4 linked regions of the Homo sapiens genome follow. The protein of the gene in region 1 purifies or fractionates together with the protein of each later gene. This does not show direct contact. Each region holds a gene or a part of one and is shown on either strand. Other genes may lie near its edges.

Region 1 (3,568 bases):
ACCCTTCTAGAAGGCAGAGTTTTAGATTCAAGTAAAGCTCTGTTAACCAGAGCCTGACGAAGGACTTTTTTTCCCTGATTTTTTTTTTTCCTGTGCCCTCTTTTTAGCAGAAGAATGTATTTCAGGAAAATAAGACAGTATTGGAAATTTTGTTTCAACAAAACAAAATAATTGTCGAGGGCCAGGTTGGCGGCACGACGGGGTGTGCCTGGCTCTCATCCTACCTGGGTTTCACCTCCCCTGGGTGGGGAGTCCTAGACTTTGCCATTTTCAGTCTGTGGAGAAGGTCTCAGTGATTCCTGAGAAGGTTTGTGTGGGGCAGCATCATGAGACACTGCAGAAATATTTGGGGAAAACCAAGGGCTTTCTGGCTGCTCTGCCTCCCCTTCCCGCAGGGGTGCTAATGGATCTGGCCCACCCAGATTCCTGACATCTTTTGGTGAACTGAGGCTTTGTCATACTGGGGCTAGAAGCCAAGTGTATATGACTTGTGGGGTGTCTCTACCCCATCTCCCCCTGCCCCCATGTGCAGTAACTTCTCTCCATAGTGGAGATGCTGTGAAATGCCCCCAGTGGAAAGTGTTATTGCCATTTGATACATAGTGGTTTGGTTTTTCCTGGGTTGAGGCATGTGGTGTGGATTTCTGTTGCTGAGCTCAGAGATACCTCACATAAGACATTCACCCCTTGAGTCATACCCACGTCCTCACTGCAGAGTCACAAATGGCACTGGTGCTACTGGGGGAGGAGACGTGAGCACACACGCGTTCTCTTCTGTGCAGCTGTGGGCCAGCCTCGGAGCTGGCTGTGGAGAGCTGGCCTCACTCACCCCTCTTGCCTGCACTAGGTGTGGTCAGGTGGCAGCATCAGTGCCTGCATGGCAGCCGAGACACATGGTGGGCTCCCCTACACATCCTGGCTTCCCAGGGATCCCTGCACTGGGATTTCTCCTCTGGCTTGGAAACTTAGCCAGGACTGCTTCAGAATGGTTGTGGGTGGGATATGCACATAAGACACTCTGACCCTGCTGGCTTCATCTCTTTAGGGACCTCAATCGGAACAGGATTCGGCTGATAGAGGGCCTCACCTTCCAGGGGCTCAACAGCTTGGAGGTGCTGAAGCTTCAGCGAAACAACATCAGCAAACTGACAGATGGGGCCTTCTGGGGACTGTCCAAGATGCATGTGCTGTAAGTGCGGACCAGGTTACTGGCATTGCTAAGGATTGCTGTGCGGTGTGGTGTGATGTGGCGTGTGTGTGTGTGCGCATGCATGTGCGCACCAACACCAACGTTGCTGTGTGTTGGGTGTGTGCGCCCACACCAGCATTGCTGTGTGGTGTGGGGTGTGTGTGCGTGCGCGTGTGCACGTGCGCGCCCACACCAGCATTCAGCTGTGCACTGGGCATGGAGTGGGGCACCAGTGCCCAGCCCCTCTCTCCTGAAGGATTCTTCAAGACTTCAGCCGGACCCAGCCCCCTTCCCTTTGCAGCTTCACCTGGGCCCAACTCATTGTCTTGGGGACCGGGCCAAACCTGAGGGTATTTTCCTAGCAGATTGGGACATCCACTGAAATCCACTTGGGGGAAGTTTCAGCGGATTGAGTCAGATAAGTTGGTTGATGGAGATGGAGTTTGGGGGCCATTCTGCCAGGACTGCTTTCCACAGCTTGCATCCACTGCCCCCGCCCCTGCTTCTTCGGTGAACGTGGGGCTGCGGAACAGACCCCTCCTCACATCCTCTCCACTCCTGACCACAGGAAGTTCCTTCTCTCCCCTTCTGGGTTTGACAGTCTTTCCTGAGGTGCAGGTGGGCCAAAAATGTAGAGCTCATCTTAGGAGGTTTATTTCTGTCTTGTGAGCTAATCAAGACACTGGGTGCAGATGTTTAAGTTTTATCAAGGGAGCAGTCTCTTCAGCCAGATGTGTACAGCAGCAGAAGGGGCTTGCCTGCACGGTAACGTGAAACAGCAGGGCAGCATACAGAAAAGGCTTTTTAAACGTTGAAAGCCTTTTTAAACGTTAATATTTATTTTTAATCAAAAGTAATTTGACTGTATAGTTAAATAAAATCAGATAGTAAAGAAAAGCCATCACTGCCCACCCCAGCCTCCCCCGCCACCACCCCCTCATTCTCTCTTCACCCCAGTTCTTCTCCCAAGAGGCAAGCACTTCTAAGCCTTTCTCTTTTTCGTTTTTCTGTTTTTAGCTTTGCTGGTTGTTCCTTCCAAGTTGATAGACTGACACCACTGTCTTTACTTATCCACTTGCGATTTCCTCCTTGAGAGTCAATGATTTAACTTGCTCATGTCCGCCCCTTCTTCTTCCAGTCTGGGCAAATTATATCATGACTCGAATGTCCTTTACTGGTTTTCTTGGCAGTGGAAACGAGCTAGGCCCAGGTCCATCCACATGTTGTGCTGTGTCACTCTGATAACCGTCTCTGCATGACCAGCCCTCCCTACTCTGTGAACAGTGAGGATGTTTCCTGCCGCTGGGCTTCTTGCTCTACCCATTCTCCACCCTTTGTTTTACATATTCAAAAACGTTTCACTTGACCTCCTTAGGCATGTCATTTTGGACTTGGAAGTCCAAGGTGGTCATGTGCTGGGTGGACTGAAGTTAAAAGAGAATTCTCAGAGGAAAATGGAGTTAGCACCTACCATTTGGTTTTTATGTTGAACAGATTTGTATAAATTGAGACTGATGAGCTGCCTTAGAGGTTATTTATACATTAAGTGCTTACCTTTTGAGCAGTAGCAGAAAGAAAGATGGAAAAAAGCAAAACTCAGTTACCCAAAGCCCTTGTAATACTGAACACGGAGCAAAATTCGGGTTACGGACTTTTGTTGAAGAGGCGGTTGCCTGGGCTGGCGCTGTCCTTCCTGGCACATGCTGTGTTGGGAAGCGGGGTGCTAGCACACTTACACGGTGGGCCTGAGAGCTCAGGCCTAGAGCTGCACTGAATCCTGATGTACCCTTGTTTCCTTCTTATAGTGACCCCATGGAGTCAGTGCTCTTGGATATCTCCATGTTAGTAGATGTGCAGGTTTATTCAGCCAGCAAGCTGCAAAATTAGGATTTAAATCCAGGTAGTCTGACGCCAGAGCTAAAGCGGGTCTCCTAGCACAGTGGCACAGAGTCCAGCCTTTGGTAGGCAGACCCAGGGTTGAATTAATTCTAGCCCCTTCCCTACTGGCTAAGCTGTGTAAAGTCTTAGACAGGTTACCTGGCTTCTCTCAGCAGCACATTCCTCATGTGTGAGATGCGGGTGATAATAAGAGCCGCCTCCTATTCGCTCTCCTTTCTATTCCTTTAATGGGCTTTGCCCTTGCCTGGAACTCCTGTGCCCGTTTGTTGGCCTGGGTCACTTTTTGTTTTGTTTTTGGTAGAGATGGGGTTTCGCTATATTGCCCTTGCTGGTCTCGAACTCCCGAGCTCAAGCGATCCTCCTTCTTCGGCCTCCCCAAGTACTGGATGGGCATAAGCCGCCACACCCAGCCCTGGTTCACTTTTACTCAGCCAAAAAAGTCACTTCTAGGAAGCTCCCTCTTGCCCTATGAACACTCGA
Region 2 (3,568 bases), on another chromosome or scaffold:
ACCAAAACTGTCTACAGTCATTGCCGAATGTGTCCTGGAAGGCAAAATTACCCCCAACAAGAACCACTGGTTTACAGCAAAGTAGGTAATTCGATGTGGAAAATGTTGAGTGTATGCCAAAGGAACATCTTAAGATGTAAATATTAACTAGAAATCAGTTATATGTGAGAGCAGACAGATATTAAATCTGTTTATCAACTAATAAGGCATCAATGTTGACTTTGATAATCCCTATTGTTTTGGAAGATAATTAAGTATTGACACCAAAATTATGTTATCTAGGATTTGGTGAACTGCTGGGCAACACAGTGAGACCTTATCACTACAAAAAAAAAATAAAAAAATAAAAAATTAGCAGGGCATGGTGGCATGCGCCTGTGGTCCCAGCTTCTCGGAAGGCTGAGGCCTTCCTTGAGCCTGGGAGGTTGAGCTTGCAATGAACCATGATTACACCATTGCACTCCAGCCTGAGCAATAGAGGGAGACCCTGTCTAATTGGGGGAGTCTTAGAATGCCATGAGAAAAAAAGAAAAGAAAAGAATAAACTAGCCCTAGTTCTTTATTTTTTTGAGATGACGTCTCACTCTGCTGTCCAGGCTGGAGAGCAGTGGCGCAATCTCGGCTCACCAAAACCTCCACCTCCCCGGTTCAAGCGATTCTCTTGCCTCAGCCTCCCAAGGAGCTGAACTAGCCCTAGTTCTAAAGAGTGACTGTCTAAACTGGCTTCAATTAGGTAAACAATAGATACCTACTATACACAAGGTGCAGTGTTGTGATACAGGGGATACTAAAAAAATACAACTCTTAATAAAGTTTCTGCCTCTTAAAATGAAAGTTAAGTACATAACGGTAACAAAGTAAAGTGTGGCTTAATGCTGTGATATAGGCACTTAGCAAACCAGGCCAATGTCTGTTTGTTTTATTAAGGACCATTCCCAGAAACTAACAAAAGGGTAACTGTTTTCCAGAATAGATGTCTATCTACATTTATAACTTTAATCCATTTCTTTTGTCTTCTACCTCATTAATTTTTTAACAGATGCAAAATCATTAAGTAGGGAGCCAGATCGTACTTAACATGCACCAAAAACATAGTTCTCAATCCCAGCTGTATGTTAGAATCAGTTACCTAGAGAACTTTAAAAAAATATTGATGCTCAGATCCCACTCCTAAACAATTAAATCAGAATCTCTATGGATGAGACATACACACAGGTATTTATTTTCTTATTTATATATTTAAAAAAATACAGAGTCTCACTATGTTGTCCAGGATAGTCTCAAACTCTTGGGCTCAAGTGATCCTCCTGCCTAGGTCTCCCAAAGTGCTGGGATTACAGGCATGAGCCAACCTCGCCTTGCCCACATAGGTATTTTTAAAAAGCTTCCCAAATGAATTCTAACACCAGTCAAGACTGGGAACCATCAATATAAGAATGAATATAAACATGCTGCTAGGAGCAACAAAATAATATGAAGGCAACAATTTGTTTCCAGCTGAAATCAGCATCTTAAATCATTCAACCTACCAAAATTTTAAAAAATCATTTTCATTTTTAAAACTCTGTAATTGAGAAATTAAAATAACACCTCCAAAAAAAAAAAAAAAAACACCTCCAGGATGCTTATGCCCATAACTCTTGTTCTGAAATTGGTATTATAATGTGTAATTATTTCATTTTACTCTATTAAAAAGACATGTGGGTTTACACCATTATTGGTATGTTTCAGAATTTAGTGTAGTAGTCCCCCCTTATCCATGGTTTCGCTTTCCATGGTTTCAGCTACTTGCAGTCAACCACAGTCCAAGAATATTAAATAAAAAATTCCAGAAATAAACAATTCATAAGTTTTAAATTGTGCACCACCTCACTTCGCCCAGTCTGTGACATGAATCATCCCTTTGTCCAGTGTATCCACACTGTAGATGCTACCTGCCTGTTAATCACTAAGTGGCCGTCTCAGTTACCAGACTGACTATAGCAGTATTACAGTGCTTGTGTTCAAGTAACCCTCATTTTACTTAATCATGGCTTCAAAGTGTAAAAGCAGAGATTCACGTATGTCAAAAAGAAGTTGTAAACTGCTTCCTTTAAGCAAAAAGGTGAAAGTTCTCAACCTAATAAGAAAAAAAACCAAAAACCTCATGCTGAGGTTGCTAAGATCTATGGTAAGATCTTTTATCTGCAAAATTATGAAGGAAAAAGAAATTTGTGCTAGTTTTGCTGTCACACCTCAAGTTGCACAAGTTATGGCCACAGGGCATAACTTTTATTACACTATATTGTTGTAATTATTCTATTTTATTATTAGTTATTGTTGTTAATCTCTTGTTACTAATTTATAAGTTAAACTTTATCATAAAAATGTATATATAGGGAAAACATAGTATATATAGGGTTCAGTACTATCTGTGGTTTCAGGCATTCATTGGAGGTCTTGAAACATATCCCCTGCAGATAAGAGGAAGACTGCTGCATTATTAAAAACTAAATTGTAGGCCCGGCGTGGTAGCTAACGCCTGTAATCCCAGCACTTTGGGAGGCCGAGGCAGGTGGATTGCCTGAGCTCAGGAGTTCGTGACCAGCCTGGGCAACACAGTGAAACCCCATCTCTACTAAAACACAAAAAATTAGCTGGGCGTGGCGGCATATGCCTGTGATCCCAGCTACTTGGGAGGCTGAGGCAGGAGAATTGCTTGAACCCATCAGACGGAGGGTGCAGTGAGCCGAGATCATGCCACTGCATCCAGCCTAGGTGACAGAGCAAGACTCCCTCTCAAAAACAAACAAACAAAAAACTAAATTGTAATGTGTTAGTCAAAAGAGACAAGGCTTAGTTAACCCTTATTCACTATACATGAGAACTGTTTTACTTGAATTAGTATGGTATTAGTCAGGTGTGCTGGCGTGTGCCTGCAGTCCTAGCTACTTGGGAGGCTGAGGCAGGAGGATCACTTGAGCCCAGGAAGCAGAGGTTACAGTGAGCCAAGGTCATGCCACTGCACTCCAGCCTGGGTGACAGAGCAAGACCTTGTCTCAGTTTAAAAAAAAAAAGGGCCAGGTATGGTGGCTCACGGCTATAATCCCAGCACTTTGGGAGGCTGAGGCGGGCAGATCACCTGAGGTCAGGAGTTCAAGACCAGCCTGGCCAACATGGCAAAACCCCATCTCTACTAAAATACAAAAATTAGCCGGGCATGGTGGCAGGTGCCTATAGTCCCAGCTACTCGGGAGGCTGAAGCAGAATTGCTTAAACCCAGGAGGCGGACATTTCAGTGAGCCGAGAACTCACCACTGCACTCCAGCCTAGAAGACAGAGCAAGACTCCGTCTCAAAAAAAAAAAAAAAAAAAAAATTAGTACGGCTATAAATGTAGAATTCCAAATAAGTTTAATATAATATTTCATCATTCAGTACTAATAAATTTAATATTATGGAACTGTTGCAGGCCTTACTTTCCATTTATTAATCATATGACTTTGAACAAATTCCGTAAATCACTCCCAATACCACCACCACTCTTCAGTTTACTTTCATCTGCAAAATGAAATAGGAACTATTTGTCT
Region 3 (3,568 bases), on another chromosome or scaffold:
TCCCTGCCTTTAAGAAAAAATCGAAATGCCTGGTTCACAAAGACCACCCTTTCTGACTGAGCTTGGTGTGTCCTTCCAGCCTCACCTCTTCGCCTAGCTCTGGACGCACTGATCTACCTGCAGTGCGGCTTTCACTGTTTCTACAAGGCAGGGGCCACCACAGCACCAGCCTCGTAGAAGCACCTGAGATACCATTTTTTTTTTCTCGAGAGTCCTTTTTGCACTCTCCTTCTCTGTCCTACCCTAAAGGTTTTAGCTCCCGAAAAACCTCGTGTAATACTAGTGCTTAGGACAGTGCCTGGCACTTGTTAGGTACTTTAATAAATACTGAATGGAATGAACACCTTGCTACAGAACAAGAATATTGCTACTATATTCAGTAAGATACATGCACCAGTCAAAAAACCTTTTATAGACTTCAAATTCCAAATGCTGTGAAAGAGAAAAGGAAAAAAAAACACTTAAAACTGTAACAACACATTTCTATCCTATTAGTGTTTATACCCTTATCATAAACAAAAGACTTCAGTAAACTGAGGATATAACAGAGTTGGACTACACACATTAAAAACTTTTTTTTGAGCTGGAATTTCACTCCTGTTGCCCAGGCTGGGGTGCAATGGCGCCATCTCAGCTCACTGCAACCTCTGCCTCCCGGGTTCAAGTGATTCCCCTGCCTCAGCCTCCCAAATAGCCAAGATTATAGGCGCCCACCACCACACCTGGCTTATTTTTGCATTTTTAGTAGAGATGGGGTTTCACCATGTTGGCCAGGCTGGTCTCGAATTCCTGATCTCAGGTGATCTGCCCACCTCAGCCTCCCAAAGTGCTGGGATTACAGGTGTGAGCCACCACGCCTGGCTTAAAACTCTTTAACATATTAAAACATTTTATCTTTAGTTTATAGTTTAAAAGGTGGTTATGTATTCTCTGCAATTTCAATGTATTTGGCAGCGAATATAAATGTTACTTAAAATTCAAGTTAATTATGTTTTACAATACTTTCTCCTAAAGACTTGGTACTGAGTTTTCATATGTGAGAATTAGTTGCCTATGAATTAACAAATTTTTACCTCCTTTATCTGCTATTGTAAGTAAGAATACTCTTAAATATGTATCAACTTCAAACCCTTTATAGAATGAGATTAGGTTATATGTAAATGAATTAAAATTAGTCAAGCCTCCATAATGTCTAGCATACTGCTTAGCTATCTTTTGGTTAATTCTAAAATTTTAAAAGTTTATATATTCTGCTCATCTATTTTAAGACATTGATAAACTTTGATACATTTGTTTATGAAAGCTCTAAAATCTCCAAAGGAATATATTTATGAGTGTGTGTCCTATTATTAATTTTAATAGCTGAGAAAGTTTCTATAAACCTAAATTTTGTCTTTTGCAATGTGCTTTGTTCTTGCACATTCCCTATACAGAGACGGCTACTTACAACAGCCTCAGAAGGCCTCCACACAGGGAGATCTCTGCCCTCAGCTTATTGTCTTTCTGTTACCAGCCAGTTTGTGATCCTTCATTTCTAGCTTCTTTGCCTTTTGTCTCAATTTGTGTTAAATGGATACTTACCTTTTCCAAAATAACTTGCAGGTCTTCAGCACCGGTATAATGTGGATCTAGAATCAGAAACTTTATCTGCCCTGTAATCTCATTCCATGCAACTCCTAGTATTGTGTGGGCCAAAACTCCTCCCCCTATAGAAGAAAAAATAGGAAATACGAATGAAGGCATAAACAAATGTCAAATGCCTATTCAATTTAAATAGACAGATTACGGCCGGGCGTGGTGGCTCACACCTGTAATCCCAGCACTTTGGGAGGTGGGTGGATCACGAGGTCAGGAGATGGAGACCATCCTGGCTAATGCAGTGAAACCCTGTCTCTACTAAAAAAATACAAAAAAAATAGCTGGGCTTGGTGGCAGGCGCCTGTAGTCCCAGCTCCTGCTGAGGCAGGAGAATGGCATGAACCTGGGAGACGGAGCTTGCACTGAGCCGAGATCATGCCACCGCACTCCAGCCTGGGCGACACAGCAAGACTCTCAAAAAAAAAAACAAAAAAAAACAACATTACTTTGCTTATTAACTGATCTAAAATAGCATTAAAATGGACTACCCTACACTATAAAAGACACAATGTCAGATATACTCTGAAAGGATAAAATTACATCTTTAACACAAAAGATACAATCATATCTATAATCACATACAATTTATATTCTACATTCACATCCATATAATTACCTAAAATGGATTTAGAAAGGGCCATAAACTCCTCCCAACAGAGTAACAATCTGCTGTAGTGCCTCTCTCAGCAGATGGTCCTGCTGCCTCTGAGTACCTCCAGTGATATAGCACTCCATTCATTAAGTTTTTTTTTTTTTTTTTTTTTTTGAGCTAGAGTCTCACGTCACCCAGGCTGGAGTGCGATAGCGTGACCTCGGCTCACTGCAACCTCTGCCTTCCAGGTTCAAGCAATTCTCCTGCCTCAGCCTCCTGAGTAGCTGAGACTACAGGCGCACACCAGCACACCCAGCGAATTTTTTGTATTTTTTTTTAGTAGAGACGGGGTTTCACTGTTAGCCAGGATGGTCTCGATCTCCTGACCTCGTGATCGACCCACCTTGGCCTCCCAAAGTGCTGGGATTACAGGCGTGAGCCACTGTGCCCAGTCTTTTTTTTTGAGACAGAGTCTTGCTCTGCTACCCAGGCTGGAGTACAGTGGGCAATCCCGGCTCACTGCAACCTCCACCTCACAGCTCAAGCGATTCTCCTGTTTCAGCATCCCAAGTAGTTGGGATTACAGGTGTGTGCCACCACACCCAGCTAAATTTTGTATTTTTAGTAGAGACAGTGTTTTGCCATGTTGGCCAGGCTGGTCTCGAACTCTTGGCCTCAAGTGATCCGCCCGCCTCAGCCTCCCAAAGTGCTGGATTACAGGCATGAGCCACTGTGCCTGGCTAGAAAATGTATTTTAAAACATAAGCTCATACAATCAGGAGTCAGGCGTGAGCTACTGGGCCCGGCCTACTCATTAAGTTCTTTCTGATATTTTGCTGACATCAGCCTACCTCCATTTCTTTTTTTTTTTTTTTTCTTTTGAGACAGTGTCTCACTTTTGTAACCCAGGCTGGAGAGCAGTGGATCTCTTGGCTCACTGCAGCCTCCTGGGCTCAAGCAATCCTCCCACCTCAGTCTCCTGAATAGCTGGCACTATAGGCTCACACTACCATGCCAGCTAATTTGTGTGTTTTTTTTTTTTTGGTAGAGACGCGGTCTGGCCCATGCTGGTCTTGAATTCCTGGATGCAAGCTATCCTCCTGCCTCAGCCTCCCGAAGTGCTAGGATTACAGGTGTGAGCCACTATGCCCAGCTTCTACCTCCATTTCTTACACACTAGTCTCACCTTGCCTTCTGTCATCACAGGACAGGTCTTGTTCTTCAAAGAATTAAGCATCTTTAGATCAGCTAATCCAATCTTCTTATTTTACAAATAAAATCCACAGAGGTAAGTAATTGCAAAATCTCACAAAGCCAGCCCAGTTATGACAGAGTCAT
Region 4 (3,568 bases), on another chromosome or scaffold:
CCTGGGAGGGGGCCACCGTCACTTTCCCTGTGTTCCGTGGGATCCTGTCACATGGTCGTTCTCACCCCAGGAGGCTTCAAGTACAGAGGACGCGGGGATGGGGGCACGCAGGGGTGTACCTGCACACACTTCTGCCTACCAGCTCTCCATCCCTTGTCCTGGTCCACATAGCAGGGGCTCCTGGCGGGCCCAGCAGCTGAGGGGGACAGAGGGGGAAACAGGGTAGCAAATAATTATGGTTTACTCTTTTTTAATTGTGAAATTTGTGTAACATAAGTTTAACCATTTATAAGTGAACCATTTGGTGGCATTTAGCACATTTACAGCATTGAACAGGCATTGCCTTAGTTCCAAAAAATTTGCATCACCCCAAAAGGAAACCCCATACCCATTAAACAGCTGCTTCCTGTCCCCGGGCAACCCCCAGCCTGCGTTCTGTCTCTGCGGCTTGGCCTGTCCTGGAACATTTCATCTGCATGGACTGTTGTCTGGCTTCACTCAGCATAAGGTCTTCAGGGTTCCTCTAGGCTGTGGCACACATCAGCCCCTTCCTGTGAGGGGTAAATAGTGTGCCGTCACCCATTCATCTGGGGATGGACACGTGGGTGCTTTCCACCTTTTGGCAGTTATGAAAAATGCTGCCAGGGACATTCCTGTTATAAATACCTGAGTTCGTGCTTTCAGTTCTTTTGGGTACATACCTGGACATGAAATCGCTAGGTAATTCTGTTTTATATTTTGTGGAGCCGCCAAACTGTTTTCCACAGTGGTTGAATTGTGTTACATTCCCAAGGGTTACAATCTATCCACATTCTCACCACCACGCATTATTCTCTGTTATTCTCTGGTTCATGTCTCACTCTGGCCGTGCAGCCAGTGCACAGTGCTAGCTCGTTGTGGCTTTGGTTTGCCTTTCCCCGGTGATGGCGTGCTGGGCATCTTTTCCTGTGCATGCTGGCCAGTTGCATGTCTCTTTGGAGAAGCATCTCTTCGAGCCCTCTGCCTGTTGTCTAACTAGATGGCTGTCTTGCCATACAGCTGACTTTGCTGTTGCATCTGCATCAAGAGCTGCAGAGAAGCAGCTTTATCCAGGGCCGTCACTGTCAGTGATTGAGCCCCAGGTCCCTTGTGAGGAGAGTGTGGATTCGTCTGATTCCTCACATGGGCATTGAATCACCACTGCCCTCGAGGACCTTGAGGACATTCTCGGAAGACCTGGACTCTGAGGCCACGTTGAGCACCAACATCTGGAAACCATGGTGTCACTGCTTGTGCATAAGAAGGGGCCTCTCAGGAACCGCCCTGTGAAGGATGGAGGAAGGGGAAGGTGCAAGGAGCCAGCAGACCCCCACCCCACTGACAAGACGAGACTCAGCAGCAGGGGAACCAGGGCCGCCCTCTCTCGCTCATCCTGAACCCTGACTCTAAAAATAACCAGGCTGATAATCGGATCCGCTGTAAGTTGATTATCATCATTGCCGTGGTGTGATGTCATGCTGCCAGGCCCTGGGGCAGTTTTCTCAGGACAGCGGTGGATGCACCTAGGCAGCTCTGGAGGCCAGCATGGAGCTGGGGGGCCCTGAACCGAGGGTGGCAGGCAGCCTCTGTGGGCTCCTGCAAATCTGCTTGGTGGGGGTGGAACACTGGCATCCATAGGCAGGCACTCTGTGCTCCCAAGGAGGAGTTCCTGTCCCCATTCGCAGCTAGGGACAGAGCCAGGGAAGCCAAGTGCCCAGCCCTGGCAAACAGCGGGGAAGCACAGGGGCATGGGCTGGGCCGCTCTGCCCTGCGTTTCTGCTCCTTCCTGCTGCTGAACTCTCTCCTTTCTGCTGCTGAACTCTCTCCTTTGGACTAGGCCTTTGTCTTCTTGCCTCATCGTCAGTGGCCTGGGAGGACACTTGCAGTCTTAATCCTGTTTTGGCCCCATGTCCCTCACCCCCCAGGGGCCACCTAGGCCAGAGCCTGTCCTGATTTCCATCTCGGCCACCGTCTGCCCCTCGGCCCCTGGTCAGGAGCTCATTCTGTGGATACTCCTGCATAGACATCACGTGGACTCAAAGGGCATGAGGACCTCGGCTGAGAGGAGCTTACACATCAGTGCAAACCTCTCATTTTACACAGGGAGAAATCGAGGCCCTGAGGGAGGCGTGAGTTGTCACACATGGGGGTAGTGTCAGATGAAGACTTGGCACCACTTCCCTGGGCATCCCCTTCCCTGCATGGCATCCCCAGCCTTGGGTTTGGATTCTTCTTCACCCTTGATGTTGAGGTCTTTGCTCCCAGGACCTGGATAACAGCATCCAGATGCAGGTGGTGCCCCCGCATCGGGCTGCCTGGCTGTGACCTGGGGCATCAGGATTGTCAGCTTGTCTGGCCCCAGGTCTGTGCTGGGCTGAAACCTACTGTCTCAGAGGCTCCTGGCTCTCTCCCTCTGCTCTCCACTGCTCTTAAGAGCAGACCCTCAAGCCTTTTTTGTGTCCTCTCTCCAGGGAGAGCCCAGCTTCTACTCTGCAGCCCAATGCAGAAGGGGTGGTAGCTCACGGTGCCTCGGCTTCTCTGCATGCCTGTCACTGAACAGAGAAGCCCAGGCCAGACTGCAGCTTAATTCCTAGCCTCTGTGTGGCCTCCAGCAGGGTACCTAAGCTAGTGCTGCCTCATTTTCCTCCTGTGTGAGATGGGAATCCTCATGGTCCCTACCTCTGACAGTTGTTTTGATGCAGTGGGTGATGCAGATGAAGCGCCCGGAGCAGACCTGCTCATGAGGAGCACACCGTGGATTCCTACTGGTTAATGTTGAACAGGGATGAGAAGGGGCTGGGGTAGGGCGAAAATGGGCAAGACCATCTCAGCTTGAGGAACATGAGCTGACAGATTGACTTAAATTTGCACATGGACATGATCTGAGTCACTGCCTTGCTGAGTGCATGGGGACAGTTGCCCAGGCCAGAGGCACCAGGGTCAAAGCCAGTGGTGATGCCCTGGCCCCGTTGCCCCAGGCCAGGGCCAGTGAACAATGTAATCAGCTGGGGCAGACTCTACAGCCCTGCAGCCAAGGGGGCCAGTGACCCTTACATGGTCATCCACAGGCCACTTGGGTGGCCAGTCCTGTTCAGCCAGGCCTTGCCCTAGGAAAGAAATTAATTATAACCTAATTGGCAGTTTCCTTTGCATAGAAGCCGGAAGCAACTGCCAGTGAGGCTGGTGATTAACTCTGCAGCAGCTGGGAAATTGCAGTTGGGCAGGAGCGCCCATCATCCTGGCCAGGCCGCTGCAGCTGGTCTGGGTATGGAAGTGTGGGTGGTGGCCATCGTGCAGCTTAGGGCCTGGGCCCCTCAGAGCAGAAGGCTGGGTCTGTGTGCAGAAGGTAGCCTTGGGCTGCCAGGTCCCCCAGTGCCCAGTTGCGGACCTCCTTCTCCCAAACCTCAGCCATGCCTGGACCCCTTCCCCACTCACGGCAGAAGGCTGCATGGCTTTTAGGGGTGTCAGGAGGCTCATGTCCTGGTTGCAGTTCTACCATGGGTGTGCAGCGGGAATTCTGGGCTTCTGTTTTCTGGCATGGGATGGGGTG

What was found.
Region 2: the proteins of LRIG1 (region 1) and USP8 purify together in Homo sapiens (affinity purification with western blotting, with the first as the bait; one study listed by BioGRID). This does not show direct contact.
Region 3: the proteins of LRIG1 (region 1) and UFSP2 purify together in Homo sapiens (affinity purification with mass spectrometry; one large-scale study listed by BioGRID and IntAct). This does not show direct contact.
Region 4: the proteins of LRIG1 (region 1) and RET purify together in Homo sapiens (co-immunoprecipitation; one study listed by IntAct). This does not show direct contact.

Annotation. Positions count from the first base shown.
Region 1 is NC_000003.12:66,410,492-66,414,059, reverse strand, and holds part of LRIG1 (leucine-rich repeats and immunoglobulin-like domains protein 1 isoform 1 precursor), read left to right. Parts: intron 1-1,045; coding exon 1,046-1,189; intron 1,190-3,568. UniProt on the Homo sapiens protein: Acts as a feedback negative regulator of signaling by receptor tyrosine kinases, through a mechanism that involves enhancement of receptor ubiquitination and accelerated intracellular degradation.
Region 2 is NC_000015.10:50,427,348-50,430,915, reverse strand, and holds part of USP8 (ubiquitin carboxyl-terminal hydrolase 8), read right to left. Parts: intron 1-3,568. UniProt on the Homo sapiens protein: Hydrolase that can remove conjugated ubiquitin from proteins and therefore plays an important regulatory role at the level of protein turnover by preventing degradation. Converts both 'Lys-48' an 'Lys-63'-linked ubiquitin chains.
Region 3 is NC_000004.12:185,401,913-185,405,480, forward strand, and holds part of UFSP2 (ufm1-specific protease 2), read right to left. Parts: intron 1,707-3,568; coding exon 1,582-1,706; intron 1-1,581. UniProt on the Homo sapiens protein: Thiol-dependent isopeptidase that specifically cleaves UFM1, a ubiquitin-like modifier protein, from conjugated proteins, such as CD274/PD-L1, CYB5R3, DDRGK1, MRE11, RPL26/uL24, TRIP4 and RPL26/uL24.
Region 4 is NC_000010.11:43,083,535-43,087,102, forward strand, and holds part of RET (proto-oncogene tyrosine-protein kinase receptor Ret isoform a precursor), read left to right. Parts: intron 1-3,568. UniProt on the Homo sapiens protein: Receptor tyrosine-protein kinase involved in numerous cellular mechanisms including cell proliferation, neuronal navigation, cell migration, and cell differentiation in response to glia cell line-derived growth family factors (GDNF, NRTN, ARTN, PSPN and GDF15).